Linked DNA regions of Homo sapiens: region 2 is linked to region 1. Evidence: fine-mapped expression QTL. A gene starts in region 1. The other region holds a variant in brackets. All regions are shown on one strand. Distances are from middle to middle. Region 1 holds the start of TLE1 (TLE family member 1, transcriptional corepressor). Region 2 overlaps TLE1 (TLE family member 1, transcriptional corepressor).

Evidence for each region.
Region 2: its variant is fine-mapped to the expression of TLE1 in whole blood (TOPMed, PIP above 0.99).

The regions. Positions count from the first base shown.
Region 1 is chr9:81,685,882-81,694,217 of GRCh38, reverse strand. TLE1 (TLE family member 1, transcriptional corepressor) reads left to right here and starts at 4,671. Exons shown (of 20, transcript NM_005077.5): 1 at 4,671-6,001; 2 at 6,784-6,884; 3 at 8,322-8,336. The coding sequence starts at 5,978. TLE1-DT (TLE1 divergent transcript) reads right to left here and starts at 4,505. Exons shown (of 4, transcript NR_109772.1): 1 at 4,259-4,505. RefSeq lists silencers at 4,124-4,273, 4,424-4,773 and an enhancer at 4,646-5,360.
Region 2 is chr9:81,652,835-81,661,170 of GRCh38, reverse strand. TLE1 (TLE family member 1, transcriptional corepressor) reads left to right here. Exons shown (of 20, transcript NM_005077.5): 5 at 7,135-7,197. Among named protein-coding and RNA genes, the nearest start is that of TLE1, 33 kb to the left of the region's middle. The variant C/T (reference allele first, on the strand shown) is at 4,920.

The sequences.
Region 1 (8,336 bases):
ACTCCAATCCTTGGGGATCTCATCGCAATCCCCCTAGGCAAAGGGAGATTAGGGAATAGGGCTTTCTGCTTCTCCCCACTCTGACAGAGAAGGGAAAACAACTTCCCCAAGTCCCTCAAGTTCTTCTGGCCACAGTACAAATTGTTCTTGAGCATGGAGGGCTTCCAAAAGCCCTAATTAGCAACTCACAGCAAACATTTCTTTGCATTAGCTAATGATCCGGCTGCACTTGTAAGCAAACAGAACCAACATATCTAATCAATGCTGAAAAACCAACCAAATGCCTATTAAACATCTGGATGTAATTTTCTAGTTAGAACAAAATGAAAACATATGCAGGTTCCTTTGATCTTCGTCTTAACAAAGAAATTGTTGATAAAAAAGCATACTGGTCAGTCAATGTGTCATTTTCATAAAGTCTGCTCATTTCTCTTCAAATGCTCCCAGTTTAATTTAGTTGGTTTCCTGCAATCTCTAATTTTACCATATTGTGTGAAACCGCAAGAGATTCTTTGGAAGTGATTTTATTTGAGGTTTTACTGCTGCATGGATCTGCTACTGATTTTTTTTCCCTTCTCTGCGTTCTTCCTTTCACCTCCACGTCCATCTTGCCCTTTTCTTTGGTAAAGGAGTGGGGGAGAAAAAGATTACCAAGAAATGCTGGGAAAAATTCTTCTGGACCCTACATTCTTAGGTTTAAGAAAACTATCAATTAAAAAAAAAAAAAGGTGGGGCGGGGTGGCTCACGCTTGTAATCCCGGCACTTTGGGAGGCCAAGGCGGTCGGATCACCTGATGTTAGAAGTTCGAGACCAGCCTGGCCAACATGGTGAAACCCTGTCTCCGCTAAAAATACAAAAATTAGCCGGGCGTGGTGGTACACGCCTGTTATCCCAGCTGCTCAGGAGACTGAGGCACATGAATCGCTTGAACCTCGGAGGCGGAGGTTGCAACGAGCTGAGATCGCACCACTGCACTCCAGCTTGGGTGACAGAGCGAGATGCTGACTCAAAAAAAAAAAAAAAGTCAAATGAGGAAATGTATGAGCAATAATTCTCAGCTAAAAGGAAGAGAACACAACAAAAGTGGTCTGTTAAAAACTATAATTATTGGCCAGGTGTGGTGGTGCATGCCTGTAATCCCAGCACTTTGGGAGGCTGAGGAGGGCGGATCACGAGGTCAGGAGTTTGAGACCAGCCTGGCCAACAAGGCGAAACCCCGTCTATACTAAAAATATAAAAATTAGCCGGGTGTGGTGGCACACGCCTGTAGTCCCAGCTACTGGGGAGGCTGAGGCAGGAGAATCTCGAACCCAAGAGGCAGAGGTTGCAGTGAGCTGAGATGGCACCACTGCACTTCAGCCTGGGAGACAGAGTGAGACTCCGTCTCCAAAAAAAATTAAAAAATTACAATTATTATTTCAAATAAAAAAGTAATAGATTTAAAAGATGTCTAGTTGCTACGATCAGCATCTATAACTTTTCCTATTTTGTTTAGTATCTGTACTAGATAACATCTAGCTTTTGTAATTACTTAGGCTATTGCTGAGTTGAAAATTTGATAATCAGCAACAAATGAATGGGAATATACCCACATATGCATCAAAAGAAAATGAACAAGCTGACAATCTTTCTGTTTCTCTGCAGAGCATAAAAAGGGTACTGTGTTTTTCAGAGAAAATTTCCAGTGGGAGCATCATACATTTCACATAAAAACATCATTGACATATGAATGTTAAAGGTAAAGAAGATTATGGTTAACAGGCTTTAAATGGAAGACCAAAATTATAGATTTCATGAGGAGGACTATTTTCTTTTAAACAGGCTGTAGGCAATCTGCACATATATTATTTATTTAAAACATAAGATTAAAGCTACTTGACTGTTTAAACGCCGTCATTTGTAATGCAGTTTGATGAGAGTTTTGTAGTATAATTATTACAGCATGACAATCGTGGAGAAAATATGACCTTGAAAAGGGCAGAGCCTTCTCCCACTCTGACAGACGATGCTCTAAATGGGAAAAAAAGGCTTCAAAAACCAAAACCAACCATTTTTATGCACACAATTAAAGGCCTTCCAATTTTAAATTCATAATGCTCTGTAGATACTACAGATACTTCATTATAAGGAAATCAGAAGGCCTGGTGTTTCAAACTCTATTGGCAAGGAAAGACTAGTTAAAAGAGAATTTCTAGTGTTTACTCATGGCAAACTGGGAAATATGGTGAGCAGACACATTGTCTGTGAGTAGTTATGTTAGAGAACATTTAAAGATGCCTTAGTACTGATTTTGAGGGCAGCGGGGTGGGGAAAGAAGAGAAGTAGCAACACTTTTGCCCCATCTCAAAGCATATTTTAATGGCTCTGTTTAAACTTAATGGGAGTGTGCCAGTTATTCAAGATACAGGCACCACATAAAGCCTGGGTAAGCCGGGGAGGAATATCAGTTGCTCCAGTTGTCACAGCATGTATACAAGCATACTTGTGGCATCCAAGCACTTTCTGTCCGGTCCTGGAGCTGATTATGGGATGAACTGGCCGCAGACTGGTATATGTGGCTCAATCACTAGATAATTTCAAGGAAAACAGGTTGCTAAAGGCCCTGGGATCCTATGATTCCAAAAAGTCCTGTATGTCGAGCAAAACTGTCATCGTCACCAAATTTAACCAAGGAAAGTGAGGCAGTGCTTTCTTCTTTTTTGTTCTCCATGTTAGCAAAATGAATAATACAGCCGCCTTCCCAACTGTACTTAATGAGAACACCACAAAGCTACAATGCCCAACTTGTTTAAGAATTTACTATGGCTTCGTACAGACTGGTTAAAATCGCTTTTTTATTTTTTCATTTATAATTGATATTTGGGAGTGATGCAATTATAGACAAATCAATATCATACATATTTAAAAACAACTCCAACAGTGAAATGTATTATCTAAAATGACTTCTAAAACTATTTCAAGAAAAAGAACTCTGTAAAAGCACATCTTTAAATAAAATGTATGTCTGTTTAAATAAGCTCCTTCCCGTAAGTCTCTTGAAGGTAAAATAATAAAATAATAACGTGGGGGTTATTAATACCAAAAACTTAACTAGTTTCCAACATAAGATAAATACTTGTCCAAGATGTGCCCTTATGGAAGAAGTTACCACCGTTTGGCTAAACCAGCATTATTCATTCACTGCTCATGTGGAAATGTTCCTCAAACAAAAGCATAAATGCGGCAATACTGACGGTTTTCTGCTGTGTATTTAGAGACATACACAAAAACCAAAGACTCTCAGCATTAATTATACAGCATGTCTTGATTATTACAATCTCAAAATCCCTTTTAACTCAAGTTCCACTTCATAAGAACCTTAGCCACGTCATTTACCTAACTCTTCCCATTTAGCTCTTCACACAGCTCAGCTCAGGAGTACCACCCAGACTGTGGGGGTGGGGTGTGCGGGACAGGTTTTTCAGGTCTCAGTGCTGGTTTATTACATTGTCTCTCTTTGTTCCCAGGAATTGGAAACAGACTCGTAGTCTTGTAGCTGAGAAGTTCCTAAAAACCTCAGCCGCTCCCCACCTCTCCCAACACAGCGAAGTCAGGACTTTTAAGACGAAGACCTGGGATTTCGCGCCCCGGGCAAAACGTCTCATCTGCGGACACGCGTGCCTTGTTCTGGCAGCACCCTGGGAATCCTTCCCGCCAAACGGGACAGGACGATCTTTTTGAAAAGTGGCTTGAAATCCTGCAATAAAAATCAAATCCTACCACTTTGGGTGCAAAGGGGGTGGGTGGGGTGGGAGGACATCACAGTCGTCTTTGCTGGTGTACCTACGCCAACCGTGGCGTTGCTCATTTACGCATTTCCAACTAAGTGCACAGTCCACTCCCTCTCGTACATCCGTAAAAAGGCAGCTCAAGGAAAAACAAACCTCAGATAAATTTTTGAATGTGGCCTCACTTTTAGAGTAGCATCAAACAAGGGGTCCAGCACTGAAAAACACATTTGCTCGAATTACCAAAAGCCCCCCTCCGCCTCCAATAAGAAACTCCGCAGCTAGTCTTTGAGTTACTTTCACTTAGATCTGAGGATTTTCATTAAAGGGAAAAGTGAGCAAGTGGCAGGATTTTTGCTAACTCGAGCCCTCAGCTTCCCCGGCTGCACGCTCGCCAGTCCCTCCCGCTAGCGCGCGCCCGCGCGCTCTCTAGCCAGCCCCACGTTACTTTGATTGACAGCCCAGCCCCGCCGCTCTCCTTCCCACCGACCTTCCCATCATCAGTGCCAATCTCCGCGAATCGCCGCTTCCCATTGGCTGGTTTTGGCGTCCCGCGGCTCCTCCAGGAACAGTTCCTCACCAAGCCCGGGAGGACGCGGCTGGCGGAGGAGGGGCCGGGATGGGAAGGGAGACCGAGGAGACGGCGGAGATGGAAGCGAGAGGAGGGGGGGAGGGAGAACGCCCCGTCCGGCGCTGCGCTGCCATACGCTCCGGGGAGGAGCGCGTCAGCGCCCCACGTTGGTTGCAGCGCACGCGATTGGCTGATGCGGGCCTTCTGCCCCCCCCCCACCCCCCAACCTCCCGGGCTCACGTCCCCCGCCGGCTCCGCGCTCGCGCCCCCCGCCCGAACGGGGCTGGGCGGGGCCGGCGCTGGTTAGCTCCGGAGTGTGAAACCGCGTGTTAATGTAAGCGGCGCGAGAGGCGCGGGCGGCGGCGGCGGTGGGAGCGGCGGCTGCAGAAGCAGCAGCAGCAGAAACAGCGGCGGGTACTCTGTGCCCCGCGTCCCGGAGGCAGCCGACTGCGCCACCCCACCCTCGCACGGCCGGGCGGGACCCGCGCCACCAGCCCGGACCTCCGTCGTCCCGCGGCGACCAAAACCCCCGCTGGCCCCACCGCTGTGACTACTCTGGACTCGCCCGCAGAGTTTGCCCGCCGGGGAGGGTGGCCGATTGGCGGAGCGCACTCCTGCTGTTTTCCCCACCATCTCGTGGATGTCGTCCCTCGGGTGGTGAGAGAACTTTGCAGTGGGCTGGAGCGCCCTTTGCGGAGAAGCACACGAAGGTGAAGGAAGGAAAGAAAGAAGACCGAGGAAGAAGGAGCTCGGAAGAAGGGTCCGGAGCGGCCGGTCCGGCCGTGCAGGGCGAGTGCGCCCGAGGCGCGGCGCCCTGATGCTCCCCGGGCTCGAGGAGCATTGGGCACTTGCGGGACTGCTCTCGGTGGAGTAGCCCCGTCGGGCCCGGAGGGTTTGTGCAACCGCGGAGAACACCGAGTGCTGGTCGCACGGGGCGTGCCGAGCCGCCTCCCGGCGCGCCCTCCGCACTTTCCCCGCCTCGTCATCCGTCGCTCCCCGGCCAGGAGCCTCCGCTGCGTCTTCAACCTCGCTCCCCTTTGCGTCCCGGGAGCCTGCGAGCACCCGGCCGAAGGCGCAGCCGAATCTTGCGGGAGTCGCCCCGAAAGCGTCGGGTTTGTGTGGGGTTAGCGGGGGCCGCCGCGCCACCTGCACCTCGCCCGCCGCCGCCTCGGGGAAAGCCCGAAGAGGAGGCGGACCAGGAGAAGAGCAAAGAAAAGCAGTCCGTCTGGATTTGTTTGCCCAGGACTGGCGCCGCGCACGCGGATCGCCGAGGGGAGTGCGGTCGGAGTCACCGCGCCCCCGCCTCCCCGCCCGGGCAGCTGAGGCCGGGGGTTGGAGCGCTGCCCCCGCGCACAGTCCCCGAGCGCCCGACGTCTCCGCGCAGGTTCTTGAAGCAGCTGGGCCTGGGGCGCCCACTAATGTGGCCCTGAGGGCCGGAGCCCGCACCGACGGGAGCGGGAGCCGGAGCAGCTGCGGGCGCCGAGTGGCCGGTGCGCCCGGCGGAGCGCGCGTGCGTGGCCAGCGCGCTCCCCGCTTCTGCTTGGCTTTCCGGCTTAATTTTCCTCGGCGGGATTAAAGTTGGAAATTGACCGGAGAATTGAGTTGCCGGGGAACAGAGCCCCGGCCGCCGCCAGAGCGATGTTCCCGCAGAGCCGGCACCCGGTGAGGCGCGGCTGGGTGGTGGTGGGGGGCCAGGATCGTTGGGGAGGCGCTTCTCCCGGGCGGTAGGGAGACTGGTGGCTTCTGAGGCCCGGCGGACCTTCTCGCCCTCAGCGGTGTAAGGCTGGGGAGGTCTGGGGCCCTCTCTTCCTGGGGTGGGGAGTGGGCCGAAACTCTTAATTTTCTCCCTCCCTTTGGGCTCCTTCCTACTTGACGTCTATACCGAGCGGACAGGGGCGCTGGGGAAGGCTGGGGTTTCTCTCCTGCAGCCATATCCCCTCTACCTTCCCCGAGTGGGGGCAGGGCGCCCCCCCCTTTGTTTCTCCTCTCGCCTATTTACATGTCAATGCGGCCCCGGTTCCGGTGCGTCTGGAGGTGGCCCCGGCGACTCTGGGAATGGGGAGCGTAAAGGAGTTGTTTTTCTCCTCTGGTCCCCGGGGTCATTATCGCCGCCGTGGGGGAAGGGGCGGCGACACCGACAATCTGGCCTGGTCTTCCCTGGCCGCCGGGGAGCCCCCTTCCCTTTGGCCTGGTGACCCGGGCGCACTTAGCGCAATCCGCCCTGGAGACTGGGAAGAGCTTCCGAGCCTCTTTAGAAGCCGGGGCCCGGGGAGGGTCCGCTTTCCCCCTCCCCATAGTGAAGGGCAAACTCGAGTTTGGGGCCTCGTTTTCAGCCACTTCTAACTTTATGTTTATGTCCCACCCGTTCTTGCCTTCTCTGACTTACTGCTTTATTCATCCGCCCGCATTCCCGTCCCTCGGTCCCCCTCGCTGGTCGCCCCCAGACGCCGCACCAGGCTGCAGGCCAGCCCTTCAAGTTCACTATCCCGGAGTCCCTGGACCGGATTAAAGAGGAATTCCAGTTCCTGCAGGCGCAGTATCACAGGTGCGTGTCCGGCCGCGCCATGCGAGTGGTCGCGGGCGTCCCGGTGCCCCTTGCACCCAGCCGGGTGGCGGCGGCGCCTGTACTTAGTTCTTGCGTCCAGGCGGTGGCGTGTGGAGTCTCAGTTAAGACCTGTCATTCAAGTTACCCCCTTTCCTGGTTCTTCCCGGGCCGCCTCTTCTCTTGTCTCCTCCTCCTCCCATTGTTTCCCTTTTGCCGGTTTGCACTGTTCCAGGGAGTCCTTTTTCATGTCTTTAGGAGTTGCATGAGAATCGTCAATATTTGCACTTCATGTATTTATTTTTCAGCAGACTGAGCTGAAACATTGGTTCAATCGATGTCTCAGTCCTGGAGTGTGGGTTCAGGGAAGCAAAGCCATGTTGAAATCGCTGTTTGCCATACTAGAAAATTGGGTTTTCTGAGGCAAAGTCCATTAAGGAAGGCTAGATGCTTATAACATTGCCCATCATTGGTGATGGTGAGGGAGGTGGGTATAATAGTATAAAGAAGAAAGCTCACCTGCTTTGGCGTCATTTCGGATTGGTTTGGGTAGGATGAGAGAGTGGAGTCACATTTATATCCATCTCAGCCTTAGTTTCTTCAAGTAATGAGACTTACCTTCAAAGGACTTATAAATTTTTGTAAAATACTTTGCCAATAGTGAACTTCCCAGAAAGGTTAGTTTCTTTCCCTTGTTCCTATGAAGTTTTACCTGATTCTAACTCAGAAATAACTGTATTGACATTTTTTGCTTTTGTCATGCTTGAGAAAAAGCACACAGATGAGGCGAAGTGGCTTGGGTGTGAATTTTCTTACTTTGTCAGGGGCTTTCTCATTATTGACCTTTTGTCTACTTGTAGATAATATCTCTGCAGCTTGAGGCATACTTGCACACACCGTGTTTACCCAGCAGGGAGAACTTCAACCCACTTTATTGCAGTAGCTACTTGACATATTTTGGCAGGGATTTAAAAACCAAAGGTTTTGAAAGGGACCAGCAATTGTAGGAGTAACTTAACAGATAGGATTTTCAAACCTAGAGACCGTTTGAGTTGGCAAAGATGGCACAGCCTATGCCTAAGAGTGAAGATTGTGCAAGGGCCGGATTTTGGTGGAGTACAGAGAAACAAACTGATGCAGGAAGGTAGGGAGCAGATGACCATGAGGAGGAATCAGTTAGAGGTTCTGACAGATTTTTTTCATTCTTGTCATCTAACCAGATAGGCACCAAGAAGAATGGTAGCTGAATGGACACCTTGTATTGTTCACATTATTCCTTTTCCCTATTAAATGCAAGGACAAAGCTTTTGGGTGTTTACCTAGATAGTTTATGGCTTTTCCAAATTGGTCTGTGTTTTTACTTGAAGTGCAAATATGTGAGGCAGATGTTAAAACAAGTGACATAATGTTTACATTAAGTTGCCTGTTTTGTTTTCCTAGCCTTAAATTGGAATG
Region 2 (8,336 bases), 33 kb after region 1:
TATATATGTATTTTTTATTTTTATTTATTTTTATTTATTTTTATTTTTGAGACCGAGTCTCACTCTGCCAGGCTGGAGTGCAGTGGCGCCATCTCAGCTCACTGCAACCTCTGCCTCCCAGGTTCAAGCAATTCTGCCTCAGGCTTCTGAGTAGCTGGAACTACAGGCACGTGCCACCACGCCAGGCTAAATGTGTGTGTGTGTGTGTGTGTGTGTGTGTGTGTGTGTGTGTGTGTTTAGTAGGGATGGGGTTTCACCGTGTTAGCCAGAATGGTCTTGACCTCCTGACCTCGTGATCCTCCCGCCTCGGCCTCCCAAAGTGCTGGGATTACAGGCGTGAGCCACCACGCCCGGCCATATCTTGAATTTAAAAGTCGCAGAATACACTAGAGTTTGATTGATTGCTGATCTCTGAGGTCCTTGGCCGTATTTCTGCTCAGTTAAAACATACATGTAGCTGGGCATGGTGGCTCATGCCTGTAATCCCAGCACTTTGGGAGGCTGAGACCGGCGAATCACGAGGTCAGGAGTTGGAGACCATCCTGGCTAACACAGTGAAACCCCGTCTCTACTAAAAATACAAAAAAAAATTAGCCGGGTGTGGTAGCAGGCACCTGTAGTCCCAGCTACTCAGGAGGCTGAGGCAGGAGAATGGCATGAACCCAGGAGGCATAGCTTGCAGTGAGCCGAGATCGCGCCACTGCTCTCCAGCTTGGGCGACAGAACGAGACTCTGTCTCAAAAAATAATAATAATAAAATAAAAAAATAAAACCATACATGTACATGAATTTTATACTTACCAACGTATGATTTTGTTTTTTTTTTTTTGTGAACAGCCTTTGTCTAGCACTGTTTAGTAATGGTTTATCTGGTTGCACCTTGGCCATTGAATTTAGGGGTGCATGGAGATTAAGTTTTGGTTCATTGAGGCATGACTTTGAAAGTATATTAAATATGTACCCTGGCATCAGTTTTAGTAGGGGAGGTACGGCAAAGAAATGTGTCACAGTATTTAGTAGGAGTCGTGTTCTCGTAATGCTTCCCATCTTGTTGTGTTGAGAAGGCTTTTAGGTAGAAAGCTGTTAAGAAACTGTATGGAAGCTTTCTTTGTATGACATGGTGATTTTTAAGCACATAGGTTTAGTTTACCAAATGACAGTAAGTGCTGTGGAGGATCTTGAAGGGCCTAGAGAAGAGTGCGTTTATTGGCGTTATGGGGGAAAGGCAGCTTCTCAGTGAATTTGAGGCAGGCCTTGAGGGATTGGGAAGATCTCTCATATTTGTACAGCACTTTGGAATAGTATACCTTACATACCAGCTCATCAGCTCACTCGATTTTGATGAAACTCTCAAGTAGATTGGTGGTAATCCTGTTAAGTACGAGACCTGGTTGGGACCCAGTGGTTTAAGTGATTTAACATAGAACCCCTAGCAGTAGTTTGCCAAGATGCAAACCCTAATTTTTGGATGATGAGGGCTAACTGTATTACCATATGCAAATCAGTGAGGAGAGTTGGCATAGGTAAGGAGAATGAAAGACTGTTGTAGACAGGTAATTTGGACTCCTGCTTCCTCCTGCCTCAGTAGGTGGTGGCCATCCATGAAGAAAGTCTTGTTGCTGGAGCCTTCATCCTGCTGCTTACATTTCTGAGTGGAGGGTTTCATGCAGATTTGGTTTGTGGATAGCTCTTGAATGCAGATTTATTGTTGTTGCCTTACACAGTATTAAAAAATCTAGGCACAGGGAAAGTTTATAAGCATTATGACTTAGTGGGTACCAAATAGGTATTCATCATTGGGTAGGAAAATTATTTCTAGGTGGGAAATACAGTTAGCCCTCAGTTTTTCACTGGAGTTGTCTAGCCTTTGCAAGAGGTGGAAGGCAGCAGGGTCAAATACCCAGGTTAACCTGCCAGCACACTCCAATCAAGAATAGAAGCATGGGCAGGAGTCACTACGAGAGGCCAGGCGCGGTGGCTCACGCCTGTAATCCCACCACTTTGGGAGGCTGAGGTGGGCGGATCACGAGGATCAGGAGATCGAGACCATCCTGGCCAACATGGTGAAACCCCATCTCTACTAAAAATAGAAAAATTAGCCAGGTGTGGTGGCGCGTGCCTGTCATCCCAGCTACTCGCGAGGCTGAGGAAGGAGAATTGCTTTAACCAGGGAGTCGGAGGTTGCAGTGAGCTAAGATGGCTCCACTGTACTCCAGCCTGGTGACAGAGCAAGACTCCATCTAAAAAAAAAATAAATAAATAGATAAATAAATACATAAATAAAATAAAGTCACTACGAGACTTGTTAATTTGTGCTAAATTAAGAATCTTACCAGAATACCCTTTTGTTGAAGCAAGAGATAATACTAAGAATTATTGCCAGTTTGTATGCTGCTGCAATCCAGACTATTTGAAGGGAAGATGTTCATGAAGTCCTCTTGGAGAGCTAGTGATGTTTTAGGACTCACAGAGCATTGTTGGGTAAGCTGTGTACCCTCACCTGCCAGGAGGTAGGTTGTGCAGGTGAAGGAGCCAGGGTATTTCAGAGGACGTCAGCGCCTTTTCTGGGGTAAACCAGCTTGTTAATAGAACAGTCCAAGACTTGGATTTAGATTTTCTGGCTCAAAAGTCAAGCTGGCTTGTCAGTATAGTTTAAGATTAGGGTTTAGAGACCTGGCAGACGGAGGGGAAGTCTTGGGTAAGACTCTCCTCTATTGCTCCTATTTGCTTCTTCTCCAGACCATTTATGTAGAATTTCCAGGACATATGGTATGGCTTTCGATGTTTTTCATCAGTTTGAGCTTTGATTTCTAACTTTTCTCCTCCTGTTTCAGGCTTATCCAGTCTAACCCAACTTACATAGTACAGTCGGCCCTTTGTATCTGTGGGTTCTGCATCTGTGAATTCAGCTAACCATGGTTTGAAAATACTTTTTTTTAAAAAACATTGCATCGGCCAGGCACAGTGGCTCATGCTAGGATTATAAATCCTAGCACTTTGGGAGGCTGAGGCAGGTGGATCACTTGAGGTCAGGAGTTTAAAATCAGCCTGTTCTACATGGTGAAACCCCGTCTTTACTAAAAATACAAAAAATTAGCCGGGCATGGTGGCACGTGCCTGTAATCCCAGCTACTTGGGAGGCTGAGGCAGGAGAGTTCCTTAGAACCCGGGAGGTGGAGGTTGCAGTGAGCCAAGACTGTGCCACTGCACTCCAGCCTAGGTGACAGAGCGAGACTCTGTCTTAAAAAAAAAAAAAAAAAAAAAAATTATGTCTGTAGTGAACATGTACAGACTTTTTTCTTGTCATTATTTCCTAAATAATACAACAACCATTTACCTAGGATTTACATTGTATTAGGTATTTTAAGTAATCTGGAGATGATTTAAAGTGTATGGGTAGATGTGCATAGGTTATATGCAAATACACCATTTTATATAAAGGACTTGAGCATCCTTAGATTTTGGTTTCCATGGGGGATTCTGAACCAATCCCTCACAGATACCGAGAGACCACTGTATTCATTGCCTTTGCTTTCATATGTCTTTCTTTTCTTTATTTTATTTTTGATAACTTTAATATTATTAAAGGTTTACAAGTTCATTTCATTCAGACTGGATCTTAACTGTCCTCCGACCATGTTCAAGTCTACTTTGATGCCATTCTAGGTAGTAACACATAGTTGCTATCATAGTTAAAGATGAGGGCATCTTTTCTTAAACCAAAATAAATTCCAGTTAAATAGTTAAGCATAAAAAGTGCAGCCATAGCACACTAGAAGAAAAGTAAGAATGGCTTTTATGATATTGATGTGTTCTAATCTTTACCTAAAGGCCAGGAGCATAGGAAGAAAATGCTTTCATTTGACCACATAAAGACTTAAAGTTCTATACAGCAAAAAAATCATATTAAGCAAGGTTGAAAGACAAGTGGCAAGCTGAGCAAACTCTGATAAAGGGTTAATATTTGTCCCATTCAAGGAAGCACCACCAAAGGACAAAAATGATTAAGCAACAATGGAAGAATGGAGAAAGGAAACATAGAGTGGAGCAATAAATACATGAAAAGATGTTTAACTAGAGGAAGAATTCAAGTAATGCAAATAAAAATGAGGTCATTTTTTAATCCATTAGATGGATGAAGATTAAAGGAAGGTCAACAAAACTCAATATTGACACTGGGTGGGAGAGCAGGAACCCTCCTAAACTCGCAATAATTGGTACAGCTTTTCTGCTGGGCAGTTTGGCAGCATGCATTGCAACTTAAAATATGCATACACTTTGACCCAGCAGTTTCACATCTAGGGATTCCTTTTAGAGATCTGTGTGGAGGCGTATTTGACAGAGTTGTTAATTGTGCAAAATTAAATGAAACATAAATATTCACTGGTGTCAATAGTACTTAGACATCTATATGCTTGTATGGTGGAATGTTTCAAGGTACTTGTTAATCTGTATTGACTGGGATGGTGTCCCTGACACATGTTTGATTAACAAATTATAGAAAGGCAGGGTATGTAACGGAAACCCCTTGGTATTAAAATGTGTCTCTCACTCTGGGCTTCTGTGCACATAAGTGAGAACCTGGAATGATGGTATCCTAAAATCACCAATATGTTACCCATGCTTATCCTTGGATGATGGGCTCAGGGTTATTTTAACTTTCTTTTATATTTCTGTATATGTATCTGTGTGCATGTGTATGAGTTCAAAGTGAGCATATATCATTTTTAAAACTGGAAACCTTCAATGTGAATTTCCGAGAAGAGGAATGTACAGAGTGTTGCAGGAATGTGTGGTAGGTAGGGAGTTGGGAGCAAGGACCTAAGTAGGATACCTACCAAAGGCATCTCTACTCCTTTACATGCACTCAAATAGACAGTGCAGAACCCTGTTGCAAAGGAAAGCCTTGCCCATGCTTT[C/T]GAGGAGAGCCATGACCTTGAGGTAGCTTGAGTGGGTGGCTGTGATCAAATGAACTGGGTGGGGCTGACCCAGTTCTGTTTTTGTACCTGGTACAGCTGCACCCTTTTTGCATATATCTGCCTCGCTGGCTAAAGCAAGGTCATGCACGGGCTTCCTCTCTCTACCAGTCATTTCCCCTTCTAGTACATTTTGTCCAAGGCATGGTCTGTCTGTAACCTTGTCTCATTGGTGGTCAGGGAGAATTGGGTTGGGTCAGACTAAATCCAATCTTATAAAACCAAAGACTTTGCTTAGTTAATTCAGATCATCTTAGAAGATACAAGGCTGCTGTTTTTTATATGCTTGATTGTAAAGTTCCTGGGGTTTTGTTCTTTTCTTTTCTTTTTTTTTTTTTTTTTGAGACAGGGTCTTGCTCTGTCGCCTTGGCTGGAGTATAGTGGCGCGATCTCAGCTCACCGCAGGCTCGACTTTGTTCCTGGGATTTCTACTTTGTCTTTTTCCATTCTCTATTTCTCAAGGTCATGGACTGCGTGCTTTTAAGTTTTTTTCTTGTGATCCTTTTCATTGCTTAATTCAGTAATATAGGTGGCATTTAGTAAGCATTGACAAAATGATGAAATAAGTAAGGTCAAGGATGGGCCTCTTTACAGATGACTTTTTTTTTCTTTTTTAAAAAAGCAGAACTGGTTCTTCCTAGGTAGAGGAAAGCAGAGCTGCTTTGCATTGCTGTAGGGTGTTGGAGGTGCTGCAGGTGGACCCTTCCCTGGGCTAGAAGTAGAGTACCCTCTGTTCCCTCTCTTGCCAGTTTTTGTCCCTTGTAGCAGAGGGACTGCTGTGGATGTGGAGCGGAGCAAAGGTTTTTCCAGCCTTCTTTATTTTTTTTATTTTTTGAGGTGGAGTCTCACTGTCGCACAGGCTGGAGTGCAGTGGCGTGATCTCGGCTCACTGCAGCCTGCACCTCCCTCGTTCAAGCAGTTCTCTGCCGCAGCCTCCCGAGTAGCTGGTATTACAGGCGCCCACCATCACGCCCGGCTAATTTTTGTATTTTGAGTAGAGACGGGGTTTCACCATCTTGGCTAGGCTGGTCTTGAACTCCTGACCTCATAATCCACATGCCTTGGCCTCAGAAAGTGCTGGGATTACAGGCGCGAGCCACCGCACCCGGCCTTTCCTGCCTTCTTTAAAACAGCCCGTGCTATAGACACTAAGGACACCTTTTATTATGTTCAGCTGACCCCTGGGCCCTGTCGGTGAGGTCTTTGAGTTTGTTACTGAACTGTGGCGAAACTTTCCGAATACTCAGGATATCATGACTTGACCATCACCCTCTAGACTGGAATGTTTTTAGTCATGTTTTCTTGGTTTGTTTGAAAGTTTGAGACTTAGGGAAGCTATGAACAATAAAATCCTTTTTCAGTTGTACAAGAGCTGGGACAAGTGGCAAAGAGGTCAGCAGGCCTTTCTTCTACTCTATCACCTTAGGCCTCATCTTTGAAAGGTGGACTGCTTTGACAGTGCTGCAGCTGCAGTGGCTTCTGACACCCGCTTGAATGAACTTGCAATAATGACATAAATGTGTCATGGTGTGCCATCATTGAAAAAGTACACTTGGCTGGGTGCAGTGGCTCACGCCTGTAATCCCAGCACTTTGGGAGGCCGAGGCGGGCGGATCACGAGGTCAGGAGATCGAGACCATCCTGGCTAACACGGTGAAACCCCACCTCTACTAAAAATAGAAAAAAATTAGCCGGGAGTGGTGGCGGGCGCCTGTAGTCCCAGCTACTTGGGAGGCTGAGGCAGGAGAAGGGTGTGAACCCGGGAGGCAGAGCTTGTGGTGAGCCGAGATCGTGCCACTGCACTCCAGCCTGGGCGACAGAGCAAGACTCTGTCTCAAAAATACATATATATATGTGTATATATATATAGTCACCATATTAAATGATCATATAGCCTTAAACCGCCTAGATTTTCCAACTCAATCAAACTACTCATCTCTTATTACAATGAAGTGTGCAGTTGTGGCTTACTTTGCAAGTGGGATTAATATCTACTGTTTATTTCAAGATAAGTATTAGTAACATAACCTGGGGAAACCATTTTATACACATTTCCAGAGCAAGGGAGAGGAGGACTGAAGTGTTAGGGGTATGAAGTTTTACCTTTCTGAACTGATTGTGAAGTATTCTAAACATTTGTGTGGCTTTGTCTTTATAGACTGAAATCGCCAAGAGATTGAATACGATTTGTGCACAAGTCATCCCATTTCTGTCTCAGGAAGTAAGTAAAATTGTTCAGCTGTTAAAGTGCAATTATGTTGCTTCTCTGTTTGCAAATTAGCTAGTTTTAAGATGTTAATTTTATCACAAGGAACAAGTGTGAAGAACATCTGTTACAGCTGAAGTGTGTAAACCCCCTGCTAGTCTATCCAACACATCTGAGGGCACACTGTAGAAATGGTGACAATAGCTCAACCCCCAAATTAATTTTTTTTCCTGTGGAAAACTGCAAAATGACTATCCAATGTACAGCTTTTGCTTTAAGTAGCATAAGCTTGAGAGCTACTGAAAATTCAGGTGTCTTTTATATCTTTTAAATAGAAAGCTGTTCTCATACTGACTTTTAAAAATGGTTCCATCAAGGTAGACTTTACTATGGAGGCAGATAGTTCTTTTGTACTTATGTATCAAGGCAGTTGTCTTAATGCTGTCCTTGAAGGGGTGGATGATAATAGTCCAAAATACATTAACTTAATGAGTCATATGTATGTATAAGCTATTTTGTTTAGTTACAAAGTCATAGAGGTTTAATCTTAACATTCTTTGAGGGAGGAATCTCTTTATATGAGTAATCTATGAAACTGACTCAAGACTATTGTATTTTAGCTTTGCCTTGAAAAGTTTACCTTCCTTCTGGATATAAGCTAGTAAATGCTGTAACGTGTTCTAAGTGTGCACGGGATGAATGCATCTTCACGCAGGGTGGAAAGTTTATTGGACTAGGAGTTGGAATACTGGGTATCCTGGTTGGCACCTGTTGCTCCATGCCGGATGGTCACCATCTCATTATTGTTGTAACAGCCTCTTCCACCATAACCTTTGTCTGTCTGATATGACAATAGATTTGTCTGCCTTTTGAGTATATCAGTAGTTGTTAGACTTTAGTGATCCACGGCTCTATGTTACATTCTCATGCCTCCCAAAGTAAATTTATGGCTTTGTTTTTATTTGTGGGTGGAGTTGGGAGTTGGGAGGTGTGGGGTGAGTTTCCATCTCTGAATTGAGGCTGGAGTCCTTCCTTTGCCTTGTGGAGGGTAAAGAATCAAAAGGCTATAAAAGAATGAGAGGAATTCCAGGAGTTTCCGAAAATGACTGGTGGGTCAAGATTGGTTGATCAGACAAGTGATCAACCAATCAACG